Linked DNA regions of Homo sapiens. The protein of the gene in region 4 interacts with the protein of the main gene of each other region in a pairwise test. Each region holds a gene or a part of one and is shown on either strand. Other genes may lie near its edges. The genes, in order: MEOX1, HOMEZ, REL and NEIL2.

Region 1 (7,601 bases), on a different chromosome or scaffold from region 4:
GCTCACTGTAGCCTCCGCCTCCTGGGTTCAAGCGATTCTCCTGCCTCAGCCTCCCAAGTAGTTGGGATTACAGGGGCGTGCCACCGCGCCCAGCTAATTTTTTGTATTTTTAGTAGAGACGGGGGTTTCGCCATGTTGGCCAGGCTGGTCTCGAGCTCCTGACCTCGTGATCCGCCCGCCTTGGCCTCCCAAAGTGCTGGGATGAGCCACCGCGCCTGGCCCCTACATACTTTTCATTTGAACAGTATGTGTGTGTCAAATCGCCTGAATTTAATTCTTGTCTCCCACACCCCCTGGCTGAATAAACTTGGGCAATTTGCTTAACTTCTCTGTGTTCGTTTTCTGGTCCATAAAGTGATACTAATACTAGAACCACTTGGTTGGGCTATTGAGGAATAAGAGGCTAATATATGTCAGGTACAGCACCTGGCACAGAGTGTGTCCCCTGACCCTGTTGGCAGTTATGACTGAGCCCCGCTGAATCTAACATGCAGCCTGCTTCAGAGGGCTCCAGATGGCTTTCCAGACTTGGCCCTCTGGGGCAGATTCTGATTCCGTAGGTAGGTCTGGGGCAGGCCTGAGATCCTTCAGGTCTGAACAGCTCCCTGGTGCTACTGATGCTGCTGGCACCCAGGCACTCCTTTGAGTGGTGAGGTCTTAGAGCAGCGGACTTGACTGTGCACCAGACGCATCTGGAGGGTTTGTAAAAATAGATTGCTGAGTGCCATCCCCAGAGTTTCTGACTTAGTAGGTCTGGAATGAGGCTAGGATTTGCATTTGTAACAAGCTCTCAGGTAATGCTGATGCTGCTGATCTGGGGACCATAGTTTGAGGCTTTGTTTTAGAGCATCTCACCCCTCAAGCTTATGGCCACCAGTAATGTCATGCTGGGGGGTGGGCTGGGGAGTAGAGGTCATTAAACAGCCAAGAGTAGCTTCTTATGCTTTGGGAATAAAAGAAAGTTTGGGGTGGGGGGAGGGTGGGAGGCAGGTACCTGAGATTGGAAACCAAAAATAAAAAATCTTCCCAATTCTAATATGGGTAAGACACCAGAAGGAATAAAAAGGACAGTGTAGCTTTTTTCTCAGCATCCTGTAAAAATAAGGGAGACTGGTAAAGACTGCCTAGTTGCTCAAGGGCAAAAGAAAGGGAATGGAGTCTCCCTCAGCCCATGTCTTCCTGTTTGGGGTCCTCTCTCCCCAGACAACCAGGAGAACAGAGGGAAGCCGGAGGGCAGCAGCAAAGCCCGCAAGGAGAGGACGGCCTTCACCAAGGAGCAGCTGCGAGAGCTGGAGGCAGAGTTTGCCCATCATAACTACCTGACTCGGCTCCGCAGATATGAGATTGCGGTAAACCTGGACCTCTCTGAGCGCCAGGTGCGCCCCCGGTGGGCCCCTCCTCTTCTTTGCTCTCTCATCTCCCTCCCTTCCCTCCTTTCCCACCACCCCTCCCTGGACCTTCTCCTTTTTCTTCCTCCAGCCAGTCCAGCGGTTTTCAACTGTGGCCACACCTGAGAATAGCCTGGGGAGTTTTGGGTTTTTTTGTTTTTTGTTTTTTGAGACGGAGTCTCGTTCTGTCGCCCAGGCTGGAGTGCAGTGGCGCGATCTTACTGTAACCTCCACCTCCTGGGTTCAAGCAATTCTCCTGCCTTAGCCTCCCAAGTAGCTGGGCTACTGGCGTGCGCCACCACGCCCGGCTAATTTTTGTTTTTTTTTTTAGTAGAGGCGGGGTTTCACCATGTTGGCCAGGATGGTCTCAAACTCCTGACCTCAGGTGATCCGCCCGCCTCGGCCTCCCAAAGTGCTGGGATTACAGGCGTGAGCCACTGCGCCCGGCCCCTGGGGAGATTTTAATAGTGCTGATGTCTGGGCTCCACCCCTAGGGATGATTTTAATTGGCCTAGGATGGGATACAGGCCTCAGAATTTTTCAAAGGCCCCCTAGGTGATTCTCACATGCAGCTAGGTTGGGACCTACGGTCTGGCTATTCCCAAATTTGAGTATATGTTGGAATCCCCCAAGGCACTTGTTCAAAATGTGGATTCTGGAGGTCCGGAGAGAGATTTTACCATAATGAGTGGGCCTGAGAATCTGTATTTCTAGTACATTCTCCAGGTGATCTGGATATGCAGCTGGTTCCTGGGCACACTTTGAGAAAAACTTCCCTGGCCCTTTGTTTTGGACTTTCCCTTCAGCCACCCCACACCCCCACACCCATGCTCTGATACGGAATAATAGTAATAATAACCGTAATATTTGATAGCAGATTTCAGTTGACAGAGCACTCTGCCAGAGGGCTGGATATTGAATCAGAAGACTTAGATTCAAATCCTGCCTCTATCACTTTTCCTAGCCCTGGGACCTCTGGGTCTCCATCTGTAAAATGGGATCATAATCCTGCAGGTAATACTCAAGCTCAGATGAGAAAATGTGCTTACCAGAGCTATCTAAACCAAAAAGTGCTCTATAAATGTGCCTAAGGATAAGGCTGATGACCTCTGCTCCCAGACCCTTGGGGAATGGAGGTAGGGGGCAGGGGGACCTGGCACAGGCAGGGCAGGGCATGTGAAGGGGGTGGGGCCAATGCAGAGTGCTTTTAGAACATGTTCCCCCGTCTGGGGCTTTATCCGAAGCCACAAGACAGACCTCTGGGCAGATTGGTATGTCCTCTCTTCGGTCCTAGTTCCTGGGGCCTTTGAGGGAGTAGGGAGTGGTAAGTGATGGTTTCAAGCTGGGGTCCCTGGAGTTACACCCTGGCTAGCCTAAGCATTGACATGGGGAGGAGGTCACACCGGCCCTGGAGTGACCAGGCTCCTTTGCTTCCTCCCCCAGGTCAAAGTGTGGTTCCAGAACCGAAGGATGAAGTGGAAGCGTGTGAAGGGAGGTCAGCCCATCTCCCCCAATGGGCAGGACCCTGAGGATGGGGACTCCACAGCCTCTCCAAGTTCAGAGTGAGATTCTGCATGGAGGAAAAATGACTAAGGACTGAGCCCCCTACCCAACTACCCCCACCCCAATCCCACCTTCACCCTCTTCCTTCCCCAGCCAGGGCAGCCTCTCCACATCTTTCCCTGACTCTTGGATATGAAACTGCCCAGCATTCCTGGGAGTCTTAGGATTTTCTAGGAAGTTCTGTCCAGCCTCTTAGCAGCCTCTTCCCTAGGGCCTTTGCTCCCACACTCTCATGGAATCAGACAGAGATCCTACCGGGCCGGATGAATCTGGAAACAGCTTCAGAGATACTGCTTCTCAGCGTCTCTTGGCTGCCACCCATGCCTCCTCCTACCGCTGTTCTCCTAGGTCAGCCAGGCCTCCTCCTGGTCTGGACACCACCTGGCCTGGTGGGAGAGGAGCTTTGGAACCAGCTGGCGACTCGGAAAGTAAATGCTTCAAAAGGAAGGAAATGACAGAGACACACGCCCTTGCCCACCTTCCTCTGTAGGCTGCACATCTGAGGCTTTGGGGCCCCTTAGTTGTCCCGAAACCCCAAGAAAAATCAGAATGAGGAGAGTCAAGGACAGCAACTCAGCTGCTGCAAGCCAGAAACACATCCCTGTCTCCAAATTTGTTGGCTAAGTGGAGACACTTCTGAGAACTGACTAGAGAAGACAGAAAAATAGCCCGATGTAGGTTTCGGTGTCCCCATATAGGCCCGTCCACACAGGCTTGACTGGGTGGACAAGAATGAACCCATGACAGCACCTGCTGCTTCAAAATCAAAATCAATTTAGGGATACAGCAGGGGCTGTTGGGCTGTGCTCCAGAGAAAAGGAGCAGCTACTCCTTTTAAATCCACGATTTCTGGATTGAAAACCTGTCCAGATGCTGAGTTGTTGGGCTGAACAACTAGGAGCTGAAAACAACGTAGAGGCTGGAAAGTGTCCCCTGCATTCTGGAGGGGAGGGGAGATAATAAGGAGGGCTGCTGGGTGAGGGCCTGGAGATGTGGAACCCTGGAGTGGAAGGTTCTCCAGTGACAGTGTCCTGTGACTGCAAAAGGGGACAAGAAAATCCCTCTTCCTCCATGGGATGGATTTAAGCTCTTGCTGTGTGTTCTACAAATGCTGTTATTGTGGGAGGAAATGCTAGGTTTTTGTGTGTGGACTGCCCAGACCTCAGCCAGGTCTTCTGGAGATGACATTTGAGGACTGATGGCCAAAGAGCATGGGGGACTGAAGCCCTGGCTGCCTCAGCGCTCTGTCTCCCAACACCAGCTGGTGTTGCAGAGGGAGGTCAACGTGAGTTTGGATCTCTTGTACGCAGATGTAATCATTCACATGTAAAAATAACCCCACCTCCCCACCCCAAAAAGGGCAAGAGCTGTGGAAAATGATTGCCAAATGAGATGGCTGGTTAGAGCATGATTTTTTCTAAAGCATACTTCATATATTTTCTTAAGATTACATCAAGCTAATTGTGCGAGCTCAATTCACTTTGTAAGAAAACTCTCGGAGAAATAAAATCAATAAAAAGCAAAGTTCCCAGGCCTTTTTCTTTGCAGAGCGAACAACCACAGCTCTTGTGTGCAACCTTCTGATTGACCAGACAATGTCTAGAAGCAAGAGAAAAAGGGAAGAAATGATCTAGACAGAGCTGTCCCCCTTTAGTTTTTCAAAAGGTGGGTACAAAATATAATTGGTGCCAAAAAAAAATTTTTCTCCAATGCAAATGCATGGTCTTCATTTCTCATTGTAAAAGTTTAGCTTTCAGTTTCCCTAAACTATGACCTATCAAATAGTCAATGTTTTATAAACAAAAGATGAACTCTTTTGTTAATAAAGGAATCTTGACCACAAAGTAACCATCCCTAATGTTTAAATTCAAAGTTTGGAGATTTTATTTTTCAAGGTAGAAAAATGTATATTAATAGTAGTAAAAAATGACATAAGAAAAAATATCCCATATTTTGTCTTTTTTTTTTTTTTTTTTTTGAGACAGAGTTTCGCTCTTGTTGCCCAGGCTGGAGAGCAATGTCTTGGCTCACTGCAACCTCCACCTCTTGGGTTCTCCTGCCTCAGCCTCCTGAGTAGCTGGGATTACGGCCATGTGCCACCACGCCCAGCTAATTTTTGTATTTTTAGTAGAGATGGGGTTTCTCCATGTTGGCCAGGCTGGTCTCCAGCTCCTGACCTCAGGTGATCCACCCGCTTTGGCCTCCCAAAGAGCTGAGGTTACAGGCCTGAGCCACCACGCCTGGCCTCTATGTCTTTTTAACTAAAAAACAATTTGTCTCACCAAGATGTCAACAATGGACAAAACAGGACTGGCTACGGTGAGGGGAGAGAGGGAGGCAGGAGGGGAGACCTGGCCAGGATCTTGCAATGAGGCAGCCTGGGCCAGGTGTGGGCAGTGCCTGGAAGTGACATCACCAGGACCTGGAATCAGGCAGACCCACCAAAATGAAGGTGCCAAATGGAAGTGGGTTCAGTGGCTCAGGTTCAGGTTCACAGCCAAGCAACATGGACACGCTCAGTCACCCCCGTCCACCCTCCTGCTGGAAACTCAACTCTGTGGCTTCAGGGGACATCACCCTCTTCTGGCTTTCCTCATCTGTCCTAGATGTTCCTTCTCTGTCCCCCATGCAAGCCCCTTTCTCGATGCTTCTGCTCTCACAGCTGGTTCTCAAGGTTTTCTCTTTCTTCCGCCACCTTCCCTATTTTTCAATCTCTCCCCAGATGATCCCATCCACCTACTTTTTTTGTTTGTTTGTTTTTTGGGACAGTCTCGCTCTGTCGCCCAGGCTGGAGTGCAGTGGCGTGATCTTGGCTCACCACAAACTCTGCCTCCCGGGTTCAAGCGATTCTCCTGCCTCAGCCTCCTGAGTAGCTGGGATATGGCTAATTTTTGTATTTTTAGTAGAGATGGGGTTTCACCATGTTGGCCAGGTTGGTCTCAAACTCCTGACCTCAGGTGATCCTCCCGCCTCAGCCTCCCAAAGCGCTGGGATTACAGGCATGAGCCACCACGCCCGGCCTATGTTTTTTTAAATTGTTGTAAAATACTCTAACATAAAATAAAAGTTATCATTTTAACCGTTTTGAAGTGCACGGTCCCGTGGCATTAAACATTTTCTCATTGTTGTGCAGCCATTGCCACTATCCATCTCCAGAACGTTTTCATCTTCCCAAACTGAGACCCTTTGCCTATGGAACACTAACCCCTATCCCCTCCCCTTCATTCACCTGCATTTACATAGTGTTTGCGCCATATTGAGCACTGTTCCGCTTTACATGTACAAACTAAGTGAATTCTCTTAGCCATCCTAAGAGGTAGTACTACCGTCATTCCCATTTCACACATGAGGTAACCAAGGCGGAGAGAAGCTGAGTAAACTCCCAAGGTTTTATGGTGGTTAGTGTTTGGGGTGGATTGTATTATTGGGCCTGGTTATCTTCTTCCCTCTCCACTGGGGAACATGCCTCCCTGATCATTGCCATATGATGCACCTGCCGCGGTAAGGGCACACTTCCTCACCTAATTGACATCAGCTTGTCCTTGTGGCCTGCTTTGGCCAATAGAATGTGAGCAGAAGGATATGTGCTGTATCCAAGCAGAAGCTTTACGGGTCATCACACGGCTGTACTCCTGCTCTTTTCCCTCTGTACGAGGCTGAAATGGAGGATCCCTAGGTTCCAGAAGGAGAAAAACATGGAACAAAGCCAAAGCTGACCCCATAGCCTTCACAGATGTCAGTGAGGATATAAACATTTGTTGCTGTAAGCCACTGGGATTTGTGGGTCACGAGCTCGTGAAAACTGACCACTCCAGTGATGAAGCTGGGTTTGGAATTGACGCATTCTGGCCCCAGGCCAACACTTCCTATGCCTGATCTGGGTGCCTAAGCTTTTCTATTCTGCTGCCTACTGCCCTTTGCCACCTAGGATGACTATAAGCATCTCAAACTCCGATATCTGAAGGGGAAATCGCCATTCCCGCAGTTGGGTGAGCACCACTGCCTGCATTCTGATTCTTCTACTTTAGCTGGCAACACCACAACCTACCTGTTCATTCACACTGGAAACCTGGGGCACATCGTCATACAGACCTCTGCTTTTCCGAACCAATCCACTACCTGGGCCTGCTCATTTTACTTCCCACATAGATACTTCTCCCACCCACGGCATTGTCTTCCCACCACCACTGCCTTCCTTCTGGCTGCTGATGTCTCACTTGAATTAGAGCCTCTGAGAGCTCTCCCTCCTGATCTGAGGCTGCTCAAATCCCATCCCCTCTCAGCCTGTAGAGTGATCACAAAAAAAAATTCAACCCTGTCACCCCCAATTTAAAACCTATCGGTAGCTTTCCTCACCTACAAAATAAAGAGCCTTCACAGGTCTCCATGATCCAGCCCCTGACCACCTCCACAGCCGCAACCTACCACCTCCGCCACAAATCCTGGGCTCTAGCAAGACCAAGCCACCTTCCATTCCACAGCCATAGGCCATGTGATTTCTCCATTCCTTGGCTCATTCCCTTCTGTCTGGAGTGCTCTCCCACACCTGGAGCCCCAAGGACTTATGGATTCTAGGAGCACTCTAAAGGAACACGCAGGAAGTTTAAATATAAATATGGCCCAAGTTTTTTTTTTGTTTTGTTTTGTTTT
Region 2 (9,295 bases), on a different chromosome or scaffold from region 4:
GGTGTCACGTGCCTGTAATCCCAGCTACTCGGGAGGTTGAGGCAGGAGAATTGCTGAATCCAGGAGGCGGAGGTTGCAGTGAGCTGACATGGTGTCACTGCCCTCCAGCCTGGGTGACAGAGTGAGACTCCGTCTCAAAAAACAAACAAAAAAACAAAACTCTGCCAGCAGTCCTGGGATTACTTCTCCACTGGCTTGTACCACCGAAGTTTACAATGTGCCTTATAAGCAAAAAAGAAAGCTGGATAGCACTGTGTTTAATATACATCCAAATTACTGTATTTTGGCCCGGTAGTGGCTCCCACCTGTAATCCTAGCACTTCGGGAGGCTAAGGTGGGAGGATTGCTTAAGCCCAGGTGTTGGAGACCAGGCTGAGCAACAAAGTGAGACCTAATTACCCGGGCTTGGTGGGTGTATGCTTGTGGTCCCAGCTACTTGGGAGACTAAGACAGGAGGATCACTTGAGTTTAGGAAGTCAAGGCTGCAGTGAGCCATGATCATACTACTGCACTCCAACCTGGGCAACAGAGTGAGACCCTGTCTCAAAAAAAAAAAAAGAAAAAATTATCATCAGTTGCAAGCAGGGAATTTTTTCCTCTCTGGCCTAGCTGTATAGGCTCTTCCATTACATATGCTTTTTATTTTTACCTTTACCTGTCCTTTTCTCTGCTGATGCTTTTATTTGCTTTCCTTAGAACTTCATCTGCCTCCTCTGGACAGGGGATTTTTTCTTTCAGACCATCCCCAAATGGGCATTCAGGCCACACAAGAGTCCTCACCCCCAACAATTTTGGTAAGTTAAATAACATTTCCAAAGGAATGGAGCTTCAACTATAGACACATATACTAAAATGAAGATTTTCAAGATGACAAGATGTTGAGGTTTGCCCCCCAAAGAGCATTGTCTCTAGTTGGCTCCTTAATATTCTTTAAGAGCCATCCCATTTTCTTCAGAGTGAAGGGAAACTCTGGATTTTGCCTGGTTAGCACTCATCCTGTCACCAGTCGAGTCCTACTATTTAGCCAGAAGGTTGGCCTATAGGATTAAACTGGCTTCTCAAAAGTCCCTATATTGAAAATGCTGGGCGCTCAGTTCTGAGGATTATAAGGCCAATATCCATTCTTCTCCCCATCTTTTTCAGTAAAGGTGGTACCACCAGTCCTCTTGCTAAGAGGCTGCCATCTTCCATAGCTCACCTAAATATTTATATTGGCTATTTTCCCACTCATAGTTAAATCTCAGACCTCTCTGCCAGTACCTGGTCCTCACAGGAAAAGAACAGACTTTATATCCCATCTCTTAAATTGCTGATTGTGTTTCCCTTCTGAGTAGTGTTCCTTTAAGAACTACCTCATTACCCTGACCCACAAGTAACACTGCCGAGAAACTGCCCAAGTAAGTTATCTTTCACTGTTCCATTCTATCCTTCAGCTCAGAGGGAGAGCACAACTACACTAGAGAGTCTTCCTAGTTTCCAGCTACCAGTCCTGCAGGTGAGACCTGGCTAGTCTAACTTGTCTGTGCATAAAATCTCACATGGTTAGGCCTGCACACTAAATGCCTCAGGGTAGTGGAATATAACCAGTGAAGAACGACATGGGTTTCAACTCTGGTAACTATATGTTCACAATCTTCCAGAATGGTCTCAATTTCAGATTTTATCCTACTGTTAGATTAGCTTCCTGGTTTGGGGTTTTAAAATGAGGTCACATGGTAGTGGGAGGCTTTAAACTGAGAGGTCTTGGCCAGCGTGAAGTAAGTGTGGACACATGGACATCTTCAGTAGTTCCACAAGAAAGTATTTTCTATGAAATACATCTTTTGGGTAGGGGTACTACTTGAACTAGGAAAAACCACATTTACTTCTCCAGAGACCGCTAGAATAATATTTTATAAATTTATGGGACTATGATTCTGATTCCAGCAACAAAAGGTAAAGGGCATGGTAACAAGGAGAGGTTTGTAAAGAGTTCTATTAAATGAAAAGTCACCGGGGGCGGTGGTACATGCCAGTAATCCCAGCACTTTGGGAGGCCGAGGCAGGTGGATAACCTGAGGTCAGGAGTTAGAGACCAGCCTGACCAATATGGTAAAACCCCGTCTCTCTCTACTGAAAATACAAAAATTAGCCAGGTGTGGTGGCGGGTGCCTGTAATCTCAGCTACATGAGAGGCTGAGACAGGAGAATTGCTTGAACCCAGGAGGCGGAGCTTGCAGTGAGCCGAGATTGCGCCACTGCACTCCAGCCTGGGCAGCAGAGTGAGACTCCATCTCAAAAAAAAAAAGAAAAAGAAAGAAAAAAATAAAAGTCCAGTCTTGCCTTTTTTTGTTTGTTTTTTTTAATGGCTTGGGTTTTGAGCATATTTAGGCTCCTTTTTCACTCCAAGCTCCTGGTGTCCCTAGGCACAGTTCCTTCATACTAAGATAAGTATATATTTTGCTCCCATATTCCAAGATGCCCTTTATTTTCATCAGTAAGAAATTAGGGTCTAAGCCTTAAGAGGCAACACTGGGGAAGTAACATTCCTCCCTAAAATCCTCAAATGGAGGGATTAACCTAAGATGAAAAAAGACTTAAAAGCTCTATAAACCGTCTACAAATATATGGCCCCTAATTGGATCTTGACTGAAACAAGCTGTAAAAAAAATAAATAAAACAATTCATGAGACAGTTGAACAAAATTATCTATTGGACATTTGATATTAAATAATTGTTAACATTGGAGAGTTTTTTGGTATGATGATATCGTAGTTATGTTTTTAAAAATAGCCTTTCTCTTTTATAGGTACATACTAAAGTATTTATGGATGGAAAGTCAAATGATGTCTGGCGTTTGCATCAGTGTAATTTAGTAGGGAGGGACACTGGGAGAGTAGAAATAAAAGATTGGCCATTAATTATTTGTTAAAGATGGACAATGGGCACATGAGTTCATTATACTATTCTATGTATTTTTTGAAAATGTGGGCCAGGCGTGGTGGCTCATGCCTGTAATCCCAGCACTTTGGGAGGCCGAGGCGGGCGGATTATGAGGTCAGGAGATCGAGACCATCCTGGCTAACATGGTGAAACCCCGTCTATACTAAAAAAAGTACAAAAAATTAGCCGGGCATGGTGGCGGGCGCCTGTAGTCCCAGCTACGTGGGAGGCTGAGGCAGGAGAATGGCGTGAACCCGGGAGGCGGAGCTTGCAGTAAGCGGAGATGCACCACTGCACTCCAGCCTGGGTGACAGAGCGAGACTCCATCTCAAAAAAACAACAAACAAACAAACAAACAAACAACCGAAAATGTGAAAAAATTTTAAAGTTATTGAAGGAAATGCCACCTCCTCAGAGGCCTAAGAACTCTGCCTCCCTGGTAGTCATCTCTGGGTGTGGTAGTCATATGTCCCAGATTTTCCAAAATAGTTTAATTTTCAAATATTCATCCTTATTATTATCACCATAAGCTACTGAAATGTTCCAGAGATTGTCACACTAGATGTAGCAAATCCTAGTTTGGAAAAGTTAGTTATCATGCAATGAAGAAAACTATGGGGAAGCAAAAGCAGTGGTGTCTGTCTCGATAAGCTTCATACAACAGGTCAGAGAGACTTGCTTGCCCTTTTTGCTGTTATAAACACCCACATCTACCTTCTTGTCCTCTGCTGCAGACTCTCTACCAACAACGGAGGCATATGGGATTACCCAGTGGGAGAGAAGCATGGACCACTTCTAGATAGATCATCTTCAAGATCTGATCTATACATGCTGCTGAAGGATGGACTGTAGCTTCCAGTACGCATTAGGGGTGATGGCCCTGGAAAATGTATCCCTGCATTGTTTCCTAGTTTCACTCTGTACCTTATGCTCCCCCCATCTTTACCCTATTCACCCTTATCACCTCCCAGGACAGTGGTCAGGTCTTACAAAAGGCTAGTGCTTCAGGAAGATGTTTATATCTCTTCCAGAAGACACTGGTAGCTCCCCTCATTTCCTACAATTTGGAACAAAGGTCAAAAAAATAATTCTTGGCATCATGCTTGGTTGGGAGTTGGGAATGGGGATTGTGATGGATCATATACTCATCACTGTTTCATTTCTGGATTTCATTTTTAGCTTTGGATATACTGTCCCATTGCCAATGTTAACGAGCAATATCTCTGTTCTTTTCCTTATTATACTTTTTTATTTGTCTATTATTTCCTCTATGCTTAGTTACTATTAAATGTTAATTTTCCTTTCTATTGAAAACAACTGTTGGAGACACTGATTTTCAGCTTAGTATATAGATAGTAAAATAAAGACGATGCCCTTTTATTGCTACAATTCTATCACTTTTACAAGCTCTAGAATGGTGGAATGGGCGAACAACACTATCACTGAGATCAAACATGTATTCTACTTTGGGTTTTAAAAGGCAGAAATGACGAATTAAATAGGTTAGCCACTCACAAGCTGGCCTTAAGCAAAAATACTGGAAAAACAGAAAATAGCAGGCATCTGCCAGAAATAAATTAGGTCTTGGGAATGATCTTGTATCTGAACTAGGATCCCCATACCCTTTCTGGTACTCTGAATTTATTTTAAAGGCATTTCTAGATACCTTCTCTTTTAGGCAAGGGCCTGTCCTGTAGCAAATGGAGTTACCTCCAAGACTGTTGTATCTCTGTTACTCCTGAAGCCTCAGAAATTTTAGTCATTATCATTTGATGGCTGAGAAACAACCTGGCTGGCGATAGATGCTGAACTACTTCCTTTTTACAGTTTTTGTTCTTTTAATTTACCTCAATAAGTCCTGCCCCTCCAAACAATAAGTTAAAAGTATGCTGAGTTAGAATGTTAATGGATTTGGTTCCATTAATCCCTAAACCATAGGAGTGGCAAAGTGGTTGAGAGAGAAACAATTTTATTTTTGGCCTTTTTATTATTATTCTAGCATTTTAGGGCTTCCACTCTTTTATTTTTAGATGGTTAACTCATTGATGATACCTATTTGCCATATAGCTGATCCCAACTGATGAAAACCATTCTAAAACATCAATAATTAATTCACTTAAAGACGATGGTCCCTCTGTCCCTAAGACAGATCCTATCAAGAGAGGGAAAAGTCTCTTTTCTGGAAACAAATTGACAGCAAAAAGATGAAAAATTAGTCTCTGTCAAGCTGGACAGGAGGTAGTTAACAGGTTTGTAAAACCAAACCTGAAACCTACCTTCACTGCCCTTCAACAAGGAGAAACTATTCCCTCTCTTTCACCCCTTTGTAACACAATTCTACTGTTTAAAAGGACATCTTCCCTAATTACCACCTCCAATAAATATCCATTCTAAATTATTCTCCACCCAATTATTAAAGTTTTTTACAAGCTCGGTGGGGGAAGATTTTCCCTGAGACAAACAATGAACAGAGTGAGGATTTTGGAAAGATAGAAAAAGCTACAAGGCAAAGTGGTCACAGCATAAGAACTGAAAATAGCCGGGCACGGTGGCTCATGCCTATAATCCCAGCACTTTGGGAGGCCAAGGTGGGCGGATCATGAGGTCAGGAGATCAAGACCATCCTGGCTAACATGATGAAACCCGTCTCTACTAAAAATATAAAAAAGTAGCCGGGTGTGGTGGCAGGTGCCTGTAGTCCCAGCTACTCGGGAGGCTGAGGCAGGAGAATGGCATGAACCTGGGAGGCGGAGCTTGCAGTGAGCTGAGATTGCGCCATTGCACTACAGCCTGGGCGACAGAGCAAGACTCCACCTCAAAAAAAAAAAAAAGAACTGAAAAATTCTGCCACCTGTGATTTAGTCATGAAGCGGGTGAAACATAGTCAAGTTGGTATGAGGAAAAGGAAATATTAATATTTGTGATGAGACTGGGACTTATTGAGAATCTTGGTTGTCTAGGAAATGATCAGTTACTAAGAAAAAAGTAAGAGAGTCAGTTGCATTACGCACAGACTTGTGCTCAGAAAAGGGGTACAAGGCAGCCTTATATTCCAGGTAAGATGGTGGGATTGGGGATGCACTGGAATCATCAATCAAATCAGAATCCTTTACTCCTCCTTTCCAATCCTCCTGGAGAGGTGGTGCCAACATCTGGCCTCTGTATAGTACACCAAGGGAAAAAAACAGCAGACACGAGGAGAGCAAGAGCAGCTTCCCAGCCCATGGTTTCCCCAGATCCTTAGCACTCCCTACCCTAAGGTTAGAGGGTTGGATTTCTGCTGATCCAATCCCAGCCTTACTTAGTGCCCTATGGTCATTCTCCCTGGTCCACCCTCACTATATCCCCCTGCCACCCACCCTGAAGAACACAAAGCTTTTTAGTTCTCTGCCACAAGGTAATTTTAAAAATGTGGTTTCTTTGTTTAAACAGTTACTAAGTTGGTTCATCTTTCAGTAACAGACCTCCCCTCCCCCAGCTCCCCACTCAGTCTTGTATGATCACATCATCATCATCATCATCATCATCTTCCTCCTCCTCCTCCTCCTCTTCCTCATCATCTTCTGGCAGTTCTTCCTCCTCCTCTTCCTCTTCTTCATCTAGACAAACTACCACCTCAGCTGGCTGAGGTAATCGAGAGTCAAACCAATCCAGCACCTGCTGGGTGCTAAGCCTTGATGCCTGACTCAATTGAGGGATATCAGTTTCCCGTAGCTGTTGGTGGGCTGCCCAGTACCTCTCCAAGGGTTGTATATCCGGTGGGGGTGGAGGGATCGGCAGAGGTGGTGTCTCAGCCCTTTCGTTCAAGGAGCGGGTTGATGGTGGTGGTGTAGGAATTGCTGGGTCTTGGAAACTAGGGGCACCAGGTACTGCGTTGTCCCGAAACCACTTTAGTTGCCCATGCTTCAAGGCATAGCGTGTGTCACCAAACCACTGAATGATCTCAGGCCGAGGTAAACCAGTGATCTGTTCTAACTTTTGGTAATCCTCACGCCGTGCCCACTGGCACTGTAAAAAAAAGGATTTAAGGATAGCCAGCTGCTCTTTGGTTTTGCGCTTGGTCTTTCGCTGGCGTTGCATATCTGGGGAAAGGTACTCTGTGGGGCCAACTCTACCTGGTACTGAGTTATGCCGTAGCCCTTGGGGCCAGGCTGGTTCCAGATGTGGGGGTAATGCCTGTTCACTGGGTGACACTGACTGTGGGACACAGCCTAGTGGCTGGAGGGGTTTAGAGGCGGCAGTAGCTCCATTAGCCAGTACCTGGAAAGAAGAAGAGGTAGAGGAAGAAGAGGGAGTAACACTAGATGCTGACTCCTCCTTACAACTACTGGCAATTAATGCAATTGGTGGGGGTTTATCCCGAGCTTGTGGCTGGGGGACGGTTGTGGAGTGGTTCCAGGAAGCAGTACCTATGCCATGTGACTGGTTGGGACCCCTGCCTGCCTGCTCCTTTGAGAGGCCACTGCTTTGAAGATGTTGCCAAAAATCTGATTGGTAGGGGAATGCTCCACTGCCAGGTGTCATCAGGGACTCCTTTAATTTCTGGTGACTCTGTGGCAGTGGTGGCATCTGAGAGGGCTCCTCAGGCTCTACCTTCAATCCTTTCGTCTGGGTAGGCTTGCTAAGAGTTGGAGGACCTATTCCAATACCAACTTGCTCTGGAGCTGGCACTGGAGGAGGAGGCACCTCCTCTGGGGGCCGTCCCGCATGATGAGTAAAAGAGAGAAGGGATTTGAAATGGAGTTGGTCCCGACGGTAGACTACTCGGGCTCGAGTCTCTTCTATTTCTTCAGATGACCAGCTAATACCACAGCGGAGGCGCTGGGCCATAAACCAAGTCTTGACTTTCTCCATCTGCAACCCATAACGTAGGCAGAGAAGGGCAATGTCTGCTAGGCTGGGATAGGGAAAGTAGCTGAAGGTTTTGAGCAGGTGTTCATTGCTGTCTAGCTCACTGGTCTGGGCTGCTTGCGTCCACACAAGCTGTAGCTCCTCAGAGATTGGAGGGAGGCAGATGAGCCCCGCTGGTGAACTACTGAGACCGCTGGCCTCTTTATTAGGAGGCATGGTGCCTTCTGATTTGTGCCCTTCAGAGATAGCTGCAATAAGAAGACAAACAGCTCAATCACTGGGTCTCCTCTTCTGACACACTGCTCAATTTCTACCAAACTAACTGCTGGACACCAGAACAATTTAATCTGTATTTGTATCATGTTGTATTGCTTTTTAAGTGCCTCAACAATTTCTTATTTAATTTTCATAAACTTAAGTCATCAGACCCTGCTTTAATTCCCATTTTCTGTGGACCAAAGTCCATAGACGTTAAATTACCCCAAGCCACATGACTGGTGAGTGTTGTTCCAAGAAAAAAATCTGTCTTTAAAGCCAGCCATGGTGGCTCATGCCTGTAATCCCAGCACTTCGGGAGGCCGAGGTGGGAGGATTGCTTGAGCCCAGAGCTTTGATACCAGCCTGGGCAACACAGTGAGACTACAAAAAATTTAAAAATCAGCTGGGCATGGTGGTTCGTGCCTGTCGTCCCAACTACTTGGGAGGCTGAGGCAGGAGGACTGCTTGAGCCTGAGAGGTTGAGGCTGCAGTGAGCTATGATTGCACCACTGCACTCCAGCCTGGGTGATAGAGTGAGACCCTATCAAAAAAAAAAAAAATCTGTCTTTAGAAGTTAAGAAGGAAAACTGATCCTGATATAGCTTTTTTTAGTGTGTATGTGTGTGTCTGTGTGTGTGTGCGTGTGTTTTGAGATGGAGTCTCACTCTCTCGCCCAGGCTGGAGTGCAGTGGCATGATCTTGGCTCACTGCAACCTCCACCTCCCAGGTTCAAGCAATTCTCTACCTCAGCCTCCCGAGTAGCTGGGATTACAGGTGCCCGCCACCACGCCCGGCTACTTTTTGTATTTTTAGTAGAGATGGGGTTTCACCGTCTTGGCCAGGCTGGTCTTGAACTCCTGACCTCGTGATCCACCTGCCTCTGGCCTCCCAAAGCTGGAATTACAGGCATGAGTCACCACACCCAGCTGGTGGGTTGTTTTTTTTTAAAGAGATAATATTGCTCTGTCACCCAGGCCACCCAGGCTGGAGTGCAGTGGCACCATCATAGCTCTGATACAGCCTTTATCTTTCCTATTCAAACCCACTTCTAGAAGCTATCCACCAACTCTCACCTTCTAAATTCATGGAACAAGAATCACATAGTGAAGACTCAACCACAAAAACAAGAGGAGCAATAATTTCAACTGGTTTGTGTGTGTGTGCATTTTTGTTTTTGTTTTTTCAAGAGACAGGGTCTCACTCTGTTGCCTAGGCTGGAGTGCAGTGGCATGATCATGGCTCATTGCAGCTTTGAACTCTTAGG
Region 3 (8,584 bases), on a different chromosome or scaffold from region 4:
AAATGTGAACTCAAGTCATTAAATTTAGAGCCTATGCTTTTAAAAATTGAAATCTATTAGAAAATTGTACATGTGTTGTACATAAAAATGACATACACAAGAGTATCTACTAAATGTGGATCAACATTTTAAGGATGAAATACCAAGAAACAAAAAAATGTTAAGATAGCTAGTTTCCATAAGAAATTTTACGTGCAAACTTAAAAAATGTTTTAATTAAAAATTTTACAGTTCTATAAAACTAGAAAAGCTCATGATAGAATATAGTATAATAGTTTGTTAAATTAGTATTTGAACCAGAAATCCAGTTCCAAAAGAAAATATTGCCTTTTCAAATGCCATAAGCTATAGCAATAAGTCATATTTTTAAAAAGCAAGACATGCACATTATTTACATAACAATTTTACTTTGCAAAGTATTAAATTTTGAAACACTAAATTTAGAAACATAGTTAAGCCCAAATTCCTTATTTTACAGGCAATAACTAATAAAACTGATAATGTATTTTGTACTGTTTTTATTTAATGACATTGAGAGTCTACTTAGCTATCACAACATTTATAAGTATCCCAGTATTAGCATTCTTATGCTTAATCTTTGAAACAGTGCATAAAAACACATCTGTACTCTGTACAACTGAAAGGTCAAAATGTTATGATACCAACACTTGTGTTACAGCAGCATACTCTACTGGCACTATTGTGTAGGCAATATGAGAGCTACCTCTTCAAAATCCATTTTTACAGCATTATAAATGTAGCATTCAAGATATTAGTGTCTCTCAATTGCAAAGATGAGTAATCAATATGCAAAAAAGATAAATTTGTAGCTAGATGTTCCTGGTAAGTTTAAAAACAAACCTATGTGAACTCTGTGAATGGATAAACAAAGTGTGGTATAGACCTACAATGGAATAAACTCAGCAATAAAAGAGAACAAACTGGCCAGGCGTGGTGGCTCACACCTGTAATCCCAGCACTTTGGGAGGCCGAGGTGGGTGGATCATGAGGTTGGGAGATCGAGACCATCCTGGCTAACACGGTGAAACCCCGCCTCTACTAAAAATACAAAAAATTAGCCAGGCGTGGTGGCGGGCGCCTATAATCCCAGCTACTTGGGAGGCTGAGGCAGGAGAATGGTGAACCCGAGAGGCAGAGCTTGCAGTGAGCCGAAATTGTGCCACTGCACTCCAGCCTGGGCGACAGAGCAAGACTCCATCTCAAAAAAAAAAAAAAAACAAAAAAACAAGCTATGGGTATACACTCCCAAATGAATGTATCTCAAAACCATGTTGAGCAAAAGAAACCAGATACAAAAGTATACTGTATGCTTCCATTTACATGCAGTTTTAGAAAAGATTAATCTCCAGTGACAGAAGGCAGATTAGTAATTGCCTGAGGCAGAGGCAGGGTAGGGAACTGAGCGAGAAGGGGACCAGGGAAATTTTAGGGGGTGATGGAAATGTTCCATAGCTTGATTGTGGTTATGTAGCAGGACATATTCGGGTAGATTTTATTGTATCTCAATAAAAGTTTATTTTAAATATTTTTAAATGGCACATAAAAGAAAAATAAACAAACTGGTCAATAAGCCAAAGTTCAAAAACATTTAGTCACATAATAGTTCTACTACAGGGAAGAAATTCTACTTACTTCTCAAAAAAAATCACTGTTTATGAGATTTTGCTTTGAATCTTCTCAATGTGTGGAAATACAATTACTACTGCATCAGAATTACTTTCATCTCTGCACAACATGGTTAAAAACTACTGACAGGCAAGAATCATGACAGATACCCGTTTTTACCCAATGCAAGATTCAGTGTAAGGCTGAAACCCCAGCTCAAAGCTTCTTTTCTATAAAGCCTAACTTCATCCTCTGCAATGGAGGGAATATTTCTCCTCTCTAAATCAGTGCAAGACTTGACCTATACCTTTCTTATGCCCTTAAAAGTTTTAAAATCTTACATGATAATCATTTATGTATGCCTCTTCTATCCTATTAGACAAAGTTTCAAATGAAGTCAGAAGGGATGTCTGATGTATCTCCACTAGGTGTTGAACCTAGTAGTGATATTTATTATACATTTTCTCAATTAACATAAATGACTGAAGAATTACTTAAAGTCCTATTGAACAACCAAACATTTAGATACTTTTACAAGTTACTGAAGAAAGCATAAAGTAAACGTTAATAAAAAGAAGTTCTACTTTGGTAATGATAGATGATAATCTGTAAACTGGACCAATTCAACCATGAGAATAAAGTGGACAAAATATGAAACAAAATTTCTCTAATGACATTAGAGAGCTAACAAGGTCATGAAAAACCATGCGACCAAGATATGAGAGAAGAAAACCCACAGTTCAGAATGAGAGGCCACTTTTATCTGAATATAGCCTGACAATTTTCTAAGAGATGGTTAAGAAGATTGAGATGAACTCTCAATAAACTATAGGGAAAAAATAAAGGAGTTGAGAGTTTGCCAAGGATGTGGGATCTGATAAATACCCAAGGCTTTGGGGGATTTGAGGTCTGAAAGAGCTATACCCTAGGAGTAAGGGTGAACTGGAAACATATCAGATTTCAGGGATGAAAGCCCAACTTCAAATAACCTAAATCATTCACTGATTTTAGGTGACCTGGGATTGCTAGTGTACCCGGCCACTAGCCAGAAGAAAATTTTCTGCAGGGAGATAATATTGTAGGCCTAAAATCTTTACTCTTTTTCACAGAAAATGACTGGTATTTTATCTTAAATAACCACACATATGAGGAGGCAAAATAAAAAATTTTTTTTTAAAAGAAAGCAACAGGCAATAAAAACATACCACAAAGGATCCAAATAATGAAGTTTTCAGACATATAATTTAAAGTAACTATACTTAATATATTCAAGGAATTAAGATTGAGAGTTTACTGGAGAACTTGAAACTGAAAAAAAGGAATCAAATTCTAGAACTGAAAAATATAATAAATTGAAATTAAGAATATAATCAAATTTATCAAAAGTTTTATAGAAAACACTTTGTGTCTTGTCTTTTTATACCTCAAGGATTAAAATGTTTACCAACATAGTCTACCAAAAGTTTTTAAAATGTTGATTCACTTTTAAAGCCTTTAATCCATCTTCAGCTGATATTTGTATATGATGTGAGGTAGGGAATCCGACTTAATTAAATAACTATTTTTTTTTCAAGCTTCATTTCTCAAACATTTCCTCCTTTCCTCTTGATATGACATGCCACCTCTGTCATACACTAAAGTCGCATATTTCCTTAGCTCTGTTTCTGGGCTCTCAATTCTTTTTTCAATAATTATACATTTTTATTTTATCTTATAAAAATTGGGTGAATATGTAGATTTAAATTGACAAAACTGTGTATTGAACAGTTTTGTCTTTTATAGCTTAGAAGAAAGATTTTGGGCAAAAATGAAATCTCTCTTTTGGAAATGATTTATTTCTATTTTATAATACTTCTGAGCACTGTTGCAACTTCAGAAGATCTTTTATATTTTTAATTTCAAATCTGCTTATATACACAGTAAGTCTTCACTTAATGTCTTCTAGGATGATGTCTATAGGTTCTTGGAAATTGCAACTTCAAGCGAAACAACACCATAATAAAACCAATTTTACCATAGGCTAATCAATATTAATAAGAGTTAAGTTTCTACGGCAGACTATGGGTCACAAAAACATCACTAAATTTATAAGACCAAAACGCTTGCAATATTAAATATTGAAATAAATCTGAGCTATACATACATTTAAGAAAGATTAATAAAAACAAGTTAAGATAATGATTTACCCAATTATTCCAGTTCAGGGTCACAGGTGATTGGAGTCTCTTCTGGGCTCTCAATTCTACTCCAATGAGTCAATCTATCTATTCTTATCCCAATATGACACTGCCTTAATTAGTATTAATACTTCTATCTGATGAGGTCAATTTCTCCTCATTGTTCTTTTTCTATATTCTGTTCCTGTTTAGAATTATCACATTTAATATGGAGTTGCATTGAATCTACTTATCAATTGGGGGAAAATGACTTTTTTTTTTTTTTTTTTTTTTTTTGAGACAGTCTTGCTCTTTGCCCAGGCTGGAGTGCAGTGGCACGATCTCAGCTCACTGCAACCTCCGCCTCCCGGGTTCAAGTGATTCTCCTGCCTCAGCCTCCCGAGTAGCTGGGACTACAGGCCTGTGCCACCACGCCCAGCTAATTTTGTATTTTAAGTAGAGATGGGGTTTCATCATCTTGGCCAGGATGGTCTCAACCTCTTGACCTTGTGATCCGCCCGCCTCGGCCTCCCAAAGTGCTGGGATTACAGGTGTGAGCTACCACGCCCGGCCTGGGAAAATGACATTTTTACAATATTACTATTAGAGAACACGGAATACCTCTCCATTTATTTAAGTATTCTCTAAGATCTCATAATAAAATTTTATAATTTTCCCTAAAGAAATCTTATCATTTCTTTGATTTGTTTCTACATACTTCATATCTCCTGACAATATTTGTTTTAATGATGTTTTCCAGTTATTTGCTGCTGAGATATGGAAATATGACTGACCTTTATATATTAATTTTACATCCACTAACCCTTTTAAACTTTATTTTTTATTCAGTCTCCAAAAAGACTGTCAAAAATTGCCAATGCTGACTATACTGCAAGTCATGACAGCAGGATATTAGGAAAAAGTTTTCAATTAACAATAACCACTCCTAAGATAAACCTCACTTGGCTATACTGCCAATGCACAAAGCTCACTCTTTTAAACTTATCTAAATAATCCATTTATATATCTTTTGGGTTATCACTATAATAATTTCAAATAATTATAGTTTTATTTCCTCATTTTTCAATCCTATGCCTCTACTTTTTGGGGGGTCTTACTGTACACTGGCTACAATGCTCACTGCTCTGGCTATGACCTTCACTACGATGTTGAATACAAGTGGTAAAAGTGTGCCTTGGTTTCTCATTCTTAACTTCAAAGCGAATGTTTCTGATATTTCTCTTATTTAGGATAATGCTTGCTGTAGGCATTTTAATAGATACATATCATTCTATAATACAAAATGCAGTGTTTTATTCTGTAATGTCAAAATTGATACTCAGTTTTGTTTGTTTTGTTTGAGACAGAGTCTCACTCTGTCGCCCAGGTTAGAGTGCAGTGTTGTGATCTTGGCTCACTGCAGCCTCTGCCTCCAGGGTTCAAGAGATTCTAACGCCTCAGCCTCCCAAGCAGCTAGGATTACAGGCATGCACCACCATGCCTGGCTAAGTTTTGTATTTTTAGTAGAGACGGGGTTTCACCATGTTGGCCAAGGTGGTCTGGAACTCCTGACCTCAAGTGATCCACCCACCTTGGGCCCCCAGTGTTGGGATTACAGGTGTGAGTGGCCGTGCCTGGCCTGATACTCAGTTTTAACATTTGCAGAAACTAACGGAAGGAAGCATGAGACCAATCGACTTCTCTCAAATTCCTCTTAAACTAGTTTAAAATTTCACTTTGTAGTTAGTCAAAATATAAGGTAATAACTGTTCTCCTGTTCTCCTTCCTTTTTATGTTTTTTTTTTTTTTGTTTTTTGTTTTTTTTTTGAGATGGAGTCTCACTCTGTCACCCAGGCTGGAGTGCAGTGATGTGAGCTTGGCTCCCTGCAAGCTCCGCCTCCCGGGTTCACGCCATTCTCCCGTCTCAGCCTCCCGAGTAGCTGGGACTACAGGCGCCCGCCACCATGCCCGGCTAATTTTTTGTATTTTTAGTAGAGACGGAGTTTCACCCTGTTAGCCAGGATGGTCTTGATCTCCTGAACTCGTGATCTGCGCACCTCAGCCTCCCAAAGTGCTGGGATTACAGGTGTGAGCCACCGTGCCCAGCCCCTTCCTTTTTATGTTAAATGTTTAATCTACCTTTAGAAAGAAATATCACTCCTTTAACCCTAAAATCAGTAGGTGTGTAATGAGAATTTCATTCTTAACCAAGAAGATATTATCATGCTATATTTTTCATAAGCAGGAATTAAATTTTAAAAATCAATTATGTCTACTAGCTCTAGAAGTGTAACATTTCTAAAATTCTAATACTGTCAAACACTACTGAAATAAAAATAAATAACAAGGCAAAAATACACAGCATATGGAATAATAATTTTATTTTTTTTGAGATGGAGTCTTGCTCTGTCGCCAGGCTGGAGTGCAGTGGCGCCATCTCAGCTGACTGCAACCCCCGCCTCCTGGTTCAACTGATTCTCCTCCTGCCTCAGCCTCCCAAGTAGCTAGGACTAGAGGTGCACGCCACCATGCCCAGCTAATTTTTGTATTTTTAGTAGAGATAGGGTTTCATTATGTTGGCCAGGATGGTCTGTATCTCTTGACCTCGTGATCCGCCCATCTCGGCCTCCCAAAGTGCTGGGATTACAGGCGTGAGCCACTGCGCCCAGCCTGGAATAACAATTTTAAGAACTATGTCTCAGTCGGGCATGGTGGCTCATGCCTGTAATCTCAGCACTTTTGGAAACCGAGGCAGGAGGATCACTTAAGCCCAGGAGTTCAAGACCAGCCTGGGCAACATACGGAGACCCTGTCTCTACAAATAATAGAAAAAAAAAAAATGAACTAAGTCTCACTTAAGGAAAAATATAAAATTTAGTTATAATTAATTTACATTTTTGTTACTTAAAAAGTATATAAAGTATCCCCTATGTATAATAATAAAAGTTGACATTTAAGTGTTCATGTGCCAGGCAAACAGTAAAGGTGCTAGAAGTATACTAGAAGTATATCATTAATTTACTCAACCTTTCAACATACTTATTGAGTATCTATTATGTGCTACCATAGTAAAGTGTTAGATACAAATTTGAAAAGACAATGCCTGACCTTAGTGAGATGAGTATCTGGATGAGAAATAGATACATAAACTAAAATTATATAATACAACATGAAAAACTTTATAATGGAAATATGCTCAAGGAATACTGAAAGCAAGAAAGTACACAAGTTCTGCCTAGGGTAATGAAAAAAAGGCTTCGAAAACTCTGACTGCAATAAAGAAAGGACAATGAAGTACACATGAGCCATTTTTTCAAACTTTAAGTTTTCAGTTGTAAGGAAAGGCTTTTTCTTGTATTAGACCAGACTTTAGAGATAAGAATCTATGTTAGACTACTTATTAAACTGTATTCCCTTTCAGACTACTAAGTAATGTAGTTTTCCCAAACTCAACTGTATAGCAGCCTTTTACTCTCATAACAACTCAAGATTCTCTACATGGGAAAACAGTAAACTACCTAATAAAACTTAATTGCAAATTCTTTATTGTCAAAATCAATTTTATTGCACAAAATTTAATATACAGTTTAGATATTCTATGGAGTTTAACTGCCGCATACTAGAAATCCTAACATTTCATTACCAAAGTACATAACTAGAAAATGATATATAATTACAAATTTTTTTCAGCTTTTGCAGTTAAGAGTCCTCTACAAAGTCTAACTGCCACTCTTGTTCTAGCTAAGTAAACACTGTTAAAATCTGATATTGGAGTCCCTAATTAAATTCCTCACCCAATTTAGACTTTGGCAATTAGACAATTTGAATAATCCTTTACTTGAAGCCTCAAATTTGACAGTATTAGACTGCTTTATGCCCCGTTTGCTAGAGACTGTTTCTTAGTTTTAAAGAACAAATGGCAAGAAAGATAAAGGCCGGCCTTAAAACACACTAGTTGGGGAATCTATTGTGTGCAGGTAGGAAACTCAATAGCTCAAGGCACTTAGCTGAGAAGATAGAGATAACAGTAAAACAAATACATTGTTTAGGTGCCAAAGTGAAATGGAAACAAGATTCCATCACAGACCCTGTCCACAAGTAGCATGAAATTAATATTTTAAGAAAATTCCTGAAGAATCAAATGATCTAACAGATAACACAAAACTTTCAATGATTAATTGCTGAGTATACCGTATAATTAGGAAGATGTTATCTCAGACTTAAGAGAACTGAGAAGGCTTTCAGGGCATCTCAGGTAAGGAAAACAACTGTGATATTTTTGGTAGAAAAGTACAAATAAGGCGGGGCGTGGTGGCTCAAGCCTGTAATCCCAGCACTTTGGGAGGCCGAGGTGGACGGAACACGAGATCAGGAGACCGAGGCCATCCTGGCTAACACGGTGGAACCCTGTCTCTACTAAAAAATACAAAAAAATTAGCTGGGCATGGTGGCGGGCACCTGTAGTCCTAGCTACTCGGGAGGCTGAGGCAGGAGAATGGTGTGAACCTGGGAGACAGAGCTTGCAGTGAGCCGAGATCACACCACTGCACTCCAGCCTGGGCAACAGAGCGAGACTCCGTAAAAAAAAAAAAAAGAAAAGTACAAATATGACATGTTCGTCCATTTATTCTTTCAACCGTTTTAGTTTGTTTGTTTTTTTGATACGGGGTCTCACTGTCACCCAGGCTGAAGTGCAGTGGCACAATCTGGGCTCACTGCAACCCAGCCTGATAGGCTCAAGTGATCCTCCTACCTCAGCCTCTGGAGCAGGCTGGGACTTGCAGCACGCACCCATGCCCAGC
Region 4 (4,250 bases):
CTCTCACTGCTACTTTTATGTAGATTCCTCAGCTAACCCAGTAAGCCCTGGAGGCCACCTCCATGAATAGTTGGGTATTTAAAGACCTTTTACTACCAAATAAAGACAAAAACAGCGAGTAACAGTGAGCTTTATTTTCATGTCACCGCTCTAGGTTCATTCACCTGTTGCCAACAACATGAGGGAGTTTCTCCACAGCCCTTGATTCCTGAATTGTTCAACAAATCAACAGTCACCAATACATTGACTTAAGGAGTAAACAAGCAGCTTTTCTCTACACACCACCGGGCACCCCAGGAAGGCGCAGCTCCCTGCTCCACGACCGCCTCTTGGTGCCTGTATCCAGCAGAAGGACCCAGCAGGAGGCTGAATCCAAGCACTGCTCTCAGGCCACTCTATCCTCATCCCTGGATCCTCCAGGGAACAAGATAAAAAAAAAAAAATCCTGTTTTCCTGCTTTCCAAAATGGAGGGCCTTAACATCAACCAAAGTTACAAAACAAAAACAAAACACAGGAGCTAGCTGGGCGCGGTGGCTCACACCCGTGGTCCCAACATTTTGGGAGACCAAGGTGGGAGGAATGCTTGAGTTGTAGGAGTTCAAACCAGCCTGGCAAATATGGCAAGACCCCATCTCTCTAAAAAGTAAACAAAAATCAGCCGAGCATCATATCACATGCCTGTAGTCCCAGCTACTCTGGAGGCTGAGATGAAGACTGCTTGAGCCAGGGAGGGCAAGGCTGCCGTGAGCCAAGATCACACCACCACACCCTAGCCAGGGAGACAGAGCAAGACTCTCTCTCAAAACAAACAACCAAAAAAAAAAAAAAAACCCACATCATCTGCAAAGCTATGTTGGGAGCACAGCCATTTCCCATAGGCTTTCTTTTTCCTTGCCCCATTGCCTTCCGGGAAGTTTTCCCCTTACCCATCATCACGATTTTTCCCATCTTTCACGATGGTGCAATTCAACAGGATGAATTAACTGAACTAGAAAAGGATAAAAAAAATCTAACCCTATGAAAACTCTGCCTTCAACATAACTCCAGGGAGACGAATATTATACTACTGGCACCTCTGACCCACACTATCCTCTGTACCCCGTCCCTGCCCACATCCTCCTTTCTGGACACTTAGACGTCAGGTTCCCCAAGCGGCAAGGTTCCGTGAGGAGCACCACCAGCTCCTTAGGAGAACTGGCACTGCTCTGGCTCCTCTGACAACTGGGGCTGGCACTGCGGGCACCACCAGGTGAGCCTCTGTAACCCATCTTCGGGCCCAAACGCCTCCTTCATGACCTGGTGGCCAGCAGGGCACTGTTCTTTCTGGTAGACCTGTGTGTGCTGCGGTCTGCCTTGGAACTTGCCCTGCAGCCAGGCTGTACTGAACTCCACCACGTGATCCACCAGGACCTCCCGACGCGAGGCACTCAGGACTGAACCGAGAGAAAGGGGATGGATCCCAGCTCTGTACAAGGCTTCATTCTTAATGATGTTCCCTGAAATAAAGCGGGGGAAGGTAAGGGAAGGACAAAGGACACATGGCATGATGAAACCACCCACAAAGTTAACAAGGCAGAAATCAGCTCTTCCATGTCCTGGGGGACCCTAGACGGGTCTGCGATCTCTGACTCCATTTCTCTGTCTGTAAAATGGAGTTGACAATTCCTACCTTTAAGGTTGCTGTGAAGATGAAATGAAACTCATGCATGGCCCGTCATGGCAAACAGGCTATCAAAAACGGATCGGGCATCTGACTGCCTGCACTTGAATCGCAGCTCAAGCAGATCCTACCCACGTGACCCTGACAAGCTCCTCAGCCTCAATTAGCTGCAGTTTCCTTATCTGTAAGGCAGGGATGGCTTACCTGGTTTTTGTGAGCATTAAATGAGAATTCACCAAAAGACGCTGAGCACAGTGGCTGGTATGTAGAGTACTCAATAAGTATTAACTGTTGTTATTATTTAAAATGTTGGCCTGGCGCATTCCTGTAATCCCAGCACTTTAGGAGGCAGAGGCGGGTGAATCACTTGAGGCCAGGAGTTCAAGATCAGCCTGGACAACATGGTGAAACCCCATCTCTACCAAAAATACAAAAATTAGCCAGGCATGGTGGCACCTGCCTGTAATCGCAGCTACTCAGGTGGCTGAGGTAGGAGACTAGCTTAAACCTGGGAGGTGGGGCTTGCAGTAATCTGAGATTGTGCCACTGCACTCCAGCCTGGGCAACATGGCAAGACCCTGTCTCAAAAAAAATTTTTTTTTAAATTAAAAACAAAATGTCAAGCATAGCTAGGCACAGTGGCACACGCCTGTAATCCCAGCACTTTGGGAGGCAGAGGCAGGAGGATCATTTAAGCCCACAAGTTCAAGACCAGCCTGGGCAACACAGTGAGAGCTTCTTGTCTCTACAAAAATTTTAAAAATTAGTGAGGCGTGATGTCATGCACCTGTAGTCTCACCTACTCAGGAGGCTAAGGTGGGAGGATCGCTTGAGCCACAGAGGTTGAGGCTGCAGTGGGTTGTGATTGTGCCACTGCACTCTGGCCTGGGTGACAGAGAGAGACCCTGTGTCAAAAAATAAAATAAATGAAATACCAAGCATAATGCTTGTTATGTAGAAAGTGTTTCGGGAGCTGTTATCTTATTATTTTTCTACTCCTGCCTCATTCTCTGTGAAGCCAGCCTCGATCCCTCCTTCCAGAATCAGTAACTCTCTTGGGAATGTTCCAACCATACTCTTTCAGCTCCACCAGGCATTCATTGCAATCTTTAGTAACCCACAGTGGACTGAGTCCATGCTTGCTGGGCCATTATACAATGATCTCCTTAAGGAGAGGTGGTGAGCGTGACAGAGCTCAAGTGAGTGTCTGTGTGTTTGGAGTGAGTGGGTGAAGGAAATTCCTGCTGTTTCCAAGAGCCTCATAGTCACACTCCTCATTACACACATCAGTCTCTCCAGAATTCATTGACAAAACACCTGGATTCACATCTCAGCTGCACCATTTACTAGCGATGTGTTCTCTGCTTCAGTTTCCTCATCTGAAGGAAGGGAAAAGCACTATAACCATCCTACAGGACAGCAGTAAGGACAAGAACATGTGCCTGGCACATCAGAGCTGCTTGGAAAACACTGGCCGTTATTAATTACTACTGTTACTGTTAGCTCTTGCCATATATACCCAAAAAGCCACTTCCGACGGCTCTTCGCTCCTGAGTGCACAGGGACTCCCATGGTCCTAACATGAAAATGCAAGGCAAGTGCCTGCTGTACCACCTGGCCTCCTCCGACCCTCGTGAAGGGTGGTGAGCAGGCAGCAAGGCCACATGTTGGATATGGAGATGACTCTGTCACCACCAACCTGCCTGATTGCTTCAGCAACCAATTTTGGGCACAATTATTCCCCTACTGTGAGTAATAAGAACGCCACGCTGTCATAGTCCCGCTAATTAGCTGTTATATGTATTTTTGAAATTGTTCAGCACTTCTCCCTATCCTGAAATGCTCACAGTTTCACTGCTCACGCCACTGCAATAGAGAGAGGGAAACAGCTTCTTCACTCGCGTCGCATAAGAACCCAGTGTAGACTGAGTCATCTCTGTGCCCTGGCCAGGGCAGGAAGCTCCATCCACCCAAGAGCAGCATCCCTTAGAACACGCGCTCACTGCTCTGTTAGCAGCCTGCACGACTTCAGTTCCTACAGACACAGGTCAGGCACCTCCTACGTGCAGGCGCTGCACTGTGCAGTGGAGGGTACAGAGGTGCCGGAGACATGACCCCACCCTTTAGGAGGTGATGCTCCAACGCTGCTGGCAGAGGGCTCACAACTGATAACACAGTTAGGGTGTGGATTCTGAAGCAGAGAGACAAGTTAAAAACTGCCTGATCTAATGCCCTCAGTCTAAAAACAAGGGAAGTAAAAGAAAGGAGATTGAGCAAGTGGCACCTCAAAACCAACAGCACTGGCACAACTAGGGTGGCCCTCAGGTCTTCTGACTCCCACAGGACCGACTTTTCCATGAAGCAACTCTGTGGACTCACCCCTTTCCCATGAGTCATACCTAGCCCTGAGAAGTATCTCTGGTCCAGCAGTGTATAGCAGACAGGCTGAGCCTGGCCTAGAGCTTCTAAGGCTTGTCCTCGATGGAACTTCTCAGACAGGATGTCACAGGTGGGTGTGACCACTGGGGAAGAGCTCCAAGACAACTGACAATTATAAAATGCCAGGAAGCCACCACCACCAAAGTGCAG

The links.
Region 1: the proteins of NEIL2 (region 4) and MEOX1 interact in binary tests that used the Homo sapiens proteins (3 or more experiments, as listed by UniProt).
Region 2: the proteins of NEIL2 (region 4) and HOMEZ interact in a two-hybrid assay, tested with the Homo sapiens proteins (one large-scale study listed by BioGRID).
Region 3: the proteins of NEIL2 (region 4) and REL interact in binary tests that used the Homo sapiens proteins (3 or more experiments, as listed by UniProt).

The regions. Positions count from the first base shown.
Region 1 is NC_000017.11:43,637,263-43,644,863, reverse strand, and holds the end of MEOX1 (homeobox protein MOX-1), read left to right. Parts: intron 1-1,203; coding exon 1,204-1,376; coding exon of another isoform or gene 1,377-1,387; intron 1,388-2,831; coding exon 2,832-2,954; 3' UTR 2,955-4,475; downstream 4,476-7,601. UniProt on the Homo sapiens protein: Mesodermal transcription factor that plays a key role in somitogenesis and is specifically required for sclerotome development. Required for maintenance of the sclerotome polarity and formation of the cranio-cervical joints.
Region 2 is NC_000014.9:23,269,167-23,278,461, forward strand, and holds the end of HOMEZ (homeobox and leucine zipper protein Homez), read right to left. Parts: intron 8,022-9,295; coding exon 6,409-8,021; 3' UTR 3,726-6,408; coding exon of another isoform or gene 3,657-3,725; 3' UTR 3,256-3,656; downstream 1-3,255. Other genes in the region: E3 ubiquitin-protein ligase RNF212B, read left to right, coding at 697-794, 1,434-1,495, 3,657-3,725. UniProt on the Homo sapiens protein: May function as a transcriptional regulator.
Region 3 is NC_000002.12:60,907,490-60,916,073, reverse strand, and holds part of REL (proto-oncogene c-Rel), read right to left. Parts: intron 1-8,584. UniProt on the Homo sapiens protein: Proto-oncogene that may play a role in differentiation and lymphopoiesis.
Region 4 is NC_000008.11:11,783,210-11,787,459, reverse strand, and holds the end of NEIL2 (endonuclease 8-like 2), read right to left. Parts: coding exon 4,061-4,250; intron 1,498-4,060; coding exon 1,187-1,497; 3' UTR 115-1,186; downstream 1-114. UniProt on the Homo sapiens protein: Involved in base excision repair of DNA damaged by oxidation or by mutagenic agents. Has DNA glycosylase activity towards 5-hydroxyuracil and other oxidized derivatives of cytosine with a preference for mismatched double-stranded DNA (DNA bubbles).